2 linked regions of the Homo sapiens genome follow. The protein of the gene in region 1 purifies or fractionates together with the protein of each later gene. This does not show direct contact. Each region holds a gene or a part of one and is shown on either strand. Other genes may lie near its edges.

What was found.
Region 2: the proteins of PCDHGB6 (region 1) and OPA3 purify together in Homo sapiens (affinity purification with mass spectrometry; one large-scale study listed by BioGRID and IntAct). This does not show direct contact.

What each region holds. Positions count from the first base shown.
Region 1 is NC_000005.10:141,415,448-141,418,202, reverse strand, and holds part of PCDHGB6 (protocadherin gamma-B6 isoform 1 precursor), read right to left. Parts: coding exon of another isoform or gene 2,475-2,755; exon of another isoform or gene 752-2,474; intron 527-751; exon of another isoform or gene 344-526; coding exon of another isoform or gene 1-343. Other genes in the region: PCDHGB7 (protocadherin gamma-B7 isoform 1 precursor), read right to left, coding at 1-343; PCDHGA10 (protocadherin gamma-A10 isoform 1 precursor), read right to left, coding at 2,592-2,755. UniProt on the Homo sapiens protein: Potential calcium-dependent cell-adhesion protein. May be involved in the establishment and maintenance of specific neuronal connections in the brain.
Region 2 is NC_000019.10:45,578,049-45,581,874, forward strand, and holds part of OPA3 (optic atrophy 3 protein), read right to left. Parts: intron 1-3,826. UniProt on the Homo sapiens protein: May play some role in mitochondrial processes.

The sequences.
Region 1 (2,755 bases):
TTAAAGGATTTTCCACCACAGCTTCCAATTGCAACTCACATCTTCTTCTCTCTTTGCATATTTGCTCACGGTCTATTCGGTCCTTCACAAGTAAGTCCCCGCTCTGCGCGTCTACGCTGAAGTGCAGCTTCTCCGCGCTCACTCGCAGCTCGCGAGCCGACACATCCAGGACACTAAGCCCTAGATCCTTAGCGAGGTTCCCCACCACCGAGCCCTTGGCCAGCTCCTCCGGAATCGAGTAGCGGATCGGCTCACACAGCGTGGGGTAGAACAAAGGCAGCAGCAAAGGAAATAGTACCTGCCGCGGGCCGGCCCGGCGCCTCTGCGCGCAGCTCCCTCCCATCGTTCGCTCGGGTTCTCGCTGGGTCCCCGCTTTTCCAGTTGGAGAAAGTGCACTCTACCGCGCTAAAAGAGCATTCGGCCCAGGACAGGAGGAGTCCCGGGTCTCGGAGCTGGCAATCTGGTGTGCTGGGCAAGGTCTGCGCAGCCGGGAGCCTCTGTGTGGGAGCTGGTTTTCTTTTCTGTTGTTGGCTGCGCAGGGAATCCCAGGCTAGAGGCTGAGGGATCCCCGGCGTCAGCGCTTGCTCTGCACTGGCCGACGGCGGCGCCCAGAGGCTCTGTGTGGGACTGCAACTTGACTTTTCTCTACCTCTTTCAAGGAATTTTTTTTAAACTACGAGTTGACAGCCAAAATATTTTAATCTTTTTCCTCAGTGATTCCTTTTACATCAGGAAATATATTTCCACTTGGTCATAACTATCATATCTTTTTATTTACTGAATTTACATATATCTTGAATAAATGAATATTTTTTCTTCAAAATTTAAAAAGGCACAAAATAATATAGCATGAAGGTTTATAGGTCTCCTATCCCACGGCCCATTGCTATCCAATTCCTCCATCCAGAGGCAGTCATTCTTGTTCCTTTTAAGAGTAATTATCTATGAAGCTGGAAGTACTGAAGATAAGCAACAAATTTTTTTGTCTTCAATTCTAGCCTATATTCACCCAGAAAGTAATAATTCCTTATTTCATACTTAAGTACTGGAATGCAACCATTGCCCTAGTCATTACCATCATCCAGGGTGTCCTGTATTGCTTTTAAATAATTATAATCAAAATATTTTCTCACAATAGCTACAATGTCAAGAGCAGTTTTTTTTAAAAAAAAAACCTGTATTTTTCAAAATAATAGAATTATTTGAGATGAATGCACAATAATTTTGACTCTCATTAACACAAATATAAAATAATAGTTTCAATGGTTTAATAGTTAATAACTATGACCCTAAAGAGTGTGCTTTCCTTCCACAGACCTATCATTCAACAAATGTTGACTGACCTGAAAAAAATCATGGAATTATAAGGGTCTTGAGAAACTTCGGAATGCTTTTTGACTTTATACTACCACATTTAGTAGAATACTAGTAATAAAATTAAGAGATCTACCTAATACGTCACTATTTTCATTGAACTAAATGAACTCATCAGTACCTCCAATGATCCTTTGTTTATATAATTTCCCTTCGTTGCATATATTCTTTTCTTTTTTACAGCTGTGGTTGGTGTTTATATTCTGATCTGCAGAAATGGCATTTCTTTCTTGACTCTAAGTTTATTTTGCCTCTCAATTTCAGAGTTTTCAGAGTTTCAGGTGTTTGCCTCCTTATACATTAAAGAGCCACTGAAATAGCTTTGTCATATATCTCTTGCTCCTGTTCTCGGGAACATGTACAAATTTATCTGTCTTCCCAACCCATATTTACTTTCAGCCTTAGTCACTAGAAAATTTAACAAAAAAGACAAAAGCAGAATCCCAAATATTCTTAATTTCACCCTCTATAGCCTCCTCAGGATCCCTATTGAGCAATGAAAGTTAAATTAAAATGCTATATCTTCCACATAGCAGTGTGAAATTAGAGAATTGTATGCAAAAAGGATACTGCAGTGTTATCAGTTATAAATAGGGCTGGAAAAATCTAAGCATACATTGTTATAAATAAATTGTTAATTCAATATTAATGAAAAACTTAGTATATTCAACTGCAACTATCACCACAAAGTATAGATTGAAAAATATATAAAATGTAGTTTGAAAAAGGCCTATTGCCCTTCTCCTTGGGAAGAACTGCATTGAGTATTCTTGGATTTGGGTTGTGTTTCCAGAGGTGATTTCTTTCTGATACTTACCTATTCTTACCAGACCTGCCTTCAGAACAAGAGGGTTGCTTAAGGGGCTGGAGTTTCAATATGTGACCACCCAGGAGGAAATATAAATTGACAGGCACTTCTGTATGGAAGTCTGTCTTAGGAATTGTCAATATTGTACTCAACAACACTATAAACTACAAGGTTCTGCAAAGCTAATCATAACAAAGCCTTATGATATATAGGCCTTGATTGAGACTAGGTGAATTTTACCAGAAAGTAAAAAAAAAAAAAAAAAAAAAAAAAAAAAAAACCTTAATAAACATCAAATTCTACTCATCAGTGTTTTAGCATTTACACTTTCCACCATCATGCCGCAAACTTCAAAGTAAAAACCAATCTTTTTTTTTTTAACAAAAGTAAAAATGAAAATAAAACTCACTGGAACCAATGGGGTATCCTCTATAGGAAACTTCGAATCATCTAACAAAGACAAAGGATCGTTTTTCTCACAGCTCTCCTGGCTGATGAGCGTGTCCGCATAATTGGGCTGGGGGAAGATCAGGTGACTCTTTCGCGAGTCCGCGGTGAGAGAGACCTCGTGGG
Region 2 (3,826 bases), on another chromosome or scaffold:
CTTGACTGACTCCATCTTACTTCCAACCTCCAAGCTGTCCTTGTTCATTCCTGAGTGAAGGCTGAACTAACTTTGGGAGAAACTTAGTTTATAGTTTAAACAAACATGGTAACAGCCCTTTCCCAAAGCAGACCTCCTTCTTGCCTGGTGACTAGATTGCCTTTGTAGGACTAACATTAGCCACAAGATTAGAAATTATGGTTTAGGAGTCATGCAGCTGGAGGATACAAGATTCTGACCCTCCCTAAACTGCTCCTAAGATCAGTGCTTGAGATATTCTGCAGACTCTGCACTTGATGGATCAGCTGGCCCCACCCAGATCAAAAAATTGGCTCATCTGATCTTGTGCCCGCCCTCCCCCTCCCCCACCGCCACCCAGGAACTAACTGAGCACAAGACATCTCTGAATTCCTATGATTTCATCTCTGACCAATCAGCACTCCTGGCTCACTGGCTTCCCCTCACCCACCAAGTTATCCTTAAAAACTCTGCTCCCGGGCCAGGCGTGGTGGCTCATGCCTGTAATCCCAGCACTTTGGGAGGCCAAGGCGGGCAGATCTCCTGACGTTGGGAGTTAGAGACCAGCCTGATCAACATGGAGAAACCCCATCTCTACTTAAAATACAAAATTAGCCGGGCGTGGTGGCGCATGCCTGTAATCCCAGCTACTCGGGAGGCTGAGGCAGGAGAATCACTTGAACCCGGGAGGCGGAAGTTGTGGTGAGCCAAGATCACACCATTGCACTCCAGCCTGGGTGTCGGAGTGCGACTCTGTCTCAAAAAATAAAATAAAATAAAATAAAACAGAACTCTGATATTGTCCTTCTGCTGCACAGAACCCTCCAGTAAGTCCTGTTCCACTCAGAGTAAAGCCAAGGCATTTGCAGTGACCCACAGGCCCCATACAAACTGTCCCCCTTTCCCGTCATCAGTTTCCTCTGTCCTGTGTGCCAGGCACGCTCATGCCTCAGGTCCTGTGTGCATGCGGGATCCTCTGGGCTGGAACGTTTCTTCCCCCAGATGGCAATGCTGCTCGTTCCCTCCCTCCTTGGCATATTTTCAGTGAGTTCTCCCTGACAATCCTATCTAGGCTTATAGCCTTCCTTTAAATACTCCTTGTTCTACAACCCTGATTTTTTTCCTAGAGCAATTATTGCTATCTAATATACTTCATCTTTTAACTATTTTTTGAGATGGAATCTCACTCTGTCACCCAGGCTGGAGTGCAGTGGTGCAATCTCGGCTCACTGCAACCTCTGCCTCTTGGGTTCAAGTGATTCTCCTGCCTAAGCCTCCTAAGTAACTGGGATTACAGGTGCCTGCCACCACACCTGGCTAATTTTTGTATTTTTAGTAGAGATGGGGTTTCACCATGTTGCCCAGGCTGGTCTCAAACTCCTGACCTCAAGTGATGCACCAGCCTCAGCCTCCCAAAGTGCTGGGATTACAGGCATGAGCCACTGGGCCCAGCCAACTATTTATTTCATTTATTGTCTGGCTTCCTCCACAAGAATGTAAGGTACCTGAGGGCAAGATGTTTTGCTTTTTCCTGCCTGTTGTATCTATAACATCTACGTGACAGCCATGACCCTATGCCAGGCACTGACTTAACATTTTATATCCATTTACTTAATCCTCACCACAACACAATAAATATTATTTACAGCATAATGCATACATAGTATATACACAAAATAATAATAATAATAATAATAGTATCTACCTCATCATAACTGGTGAGGACCCAGTGCCAGAGGCTGGAAGGTGCTGCAGACAAGCCGTGGCACAAAGTACAAGCCCAGTTAATGTGACCATTACATAATACCCAATGTACAGAATCGGAAATTGAAGCTAAGAGGGGCTAAATGACGTACCCAAAGTCACCAGTCTGGGTAGGGATTCAAACCTATGTCAGTCTGACTCCAGAAGCCATTTTCTTTCTTTTTTTTTTTCTTTTTTTTTTTTTGATATGGAGTCTCGCTCTGTCACCCAGGCTGGAGTGTAGTGGCACGATCTCGGCTCACTGCAACCTCCGCCTCCCATGTTCAAGTGATTCTTCTGCCTCAGCCTCCCGAGTAGCTGGGATTACAGGCGCGTGCCACCACGCCCAGCTAATTTTTGTATTTTTAGTAGAGAAGGGGTTTCACCATGTTGGTCAGGCAGGTCTTGAAATTTGACTTCGTGATCTGCCCACCTTGGCCTCCCAAAGTGTTGGGATTACAGGCGCGAGCCACTGCACCCGGCCTTTTTTTTTTTTTTTTTGAGACAGAGTTTCACTCTTGTTGCCCAGGCTGGAGTGCAATGGCGTGATCTCGGCTCACTGCAACCTCCACCTCCTGGGTTCAAGCGATTCTCCTGCCTCAGCCTCCCGAGTAGCTGGGATTACAGGCATGCGCCACCACGTCTGGCTAATTTTGTATTTTTAGTAGAGACGGGGTTTCTCCATGTTGGTGAGGCTGGTCTCTAATTCCCGACCTCAGGTGATCTGCCTGCCTCGGCCTCCCAAAGTGCTGGGATTATAGGTGGGAGGCACCGCGCCCAGCACAGAAGCCTATTTATTTATTTATTTATTTATTTATTTATTTATTGAGACAGAGTCTCGCTCTGTCGCCCAAGCTGGAGTGCAGTGGTGTGATCTTGGCTCACTGCAACCTCTGCCTCCCAGGTTCAAGCAATTCTCCTGCCTCAGCCTCCCAAGTAGCTGGGACTACAGGTGTGCGCCACCACACCTGCCTAATTTTGTATTTTGAGTAGAGACAGGGTTTCACCATGTTGGCCAGGCTGGTCTTGAACTCCTGACCTCATGATCCACCCACCTCCGCCTTCCAAAGTGCTGGGATTACAGGCATGAGCCACTGCGCCCAGCTCCAGAAGCCATTTTCTAAACCACAACGCTAAGAATGTCACAGTGTTTGGAAGACAGGCAGAGACAGGAAACAAACTGGGTCTAGGAATTCAGTGTCCAAAGTTTCGCCTCTGGCACAAATCTCTGCGTATGACCTGAGCAATTAACTGCTGCCCTCAACACCTCCATTTTCCCTTCTATAAACCAGAGGAAGTCATTCCTCTTTCCGGACATGGGGACAAAACAGTTGTGGGGGTCAAATGAGATGGCTAACAGGAAAGCACTTTGGTAACTGTGAAATCTAATACTTTCCCATTCTAAGAGCTGCAGCCCCAACAAAGACCCCACCAAACACCGAACAACCAAGAATTCCGGGCCCTGGAAAGCAAACTTTAAGCATCCAAACTTACAGAGGGGGAAAAAAAGTGCACTCCCTTAATCATGTGGGCTTTGTGTGTGCTCCTCCCTCTGCCCCAGTGCTTTCCTTACGCCTTGTCCTGGTGTTGTCCTCACCCTTCAGGTCCCAATTCAGATGTCTCCTCTGCCAGGAAGCCCTCCCTGAACCCCATGCCATGTCAGGTGCCCAGTGGGCTCCCCCATCTCAGCTCTGCCCACTGTTGGGGGATACGTCTGTCCCCCGCAGGACTAGGAATTCCTTGAGGGCACAGATTGGTGCTGGTTTGGTCCCTGCTGTTTCGCCAGCATTGCCAGCACAAGGCCTGGCACAGGGCAGAGGCTCACAAAATACCAGCTAAAGGAAATAATGAATGGATGGAGGGATGAATGGTGTGTAACCGCCCAAGGAGTTCACCTTGCCCGCTGCCTAGACAGAGCTGATTCATCAAGAGAGGAGAACTGCAAGACAAAGAGTAATTCACGCAGAGTTGGCTGTGCGGGAGGGTGTTTTGTTTGTTTGTTTGAGATTGAGACAGTCTTGCTCTGTTGCCCAGACTGGAGGGCAGTGGTGCAATCTCGGATCAC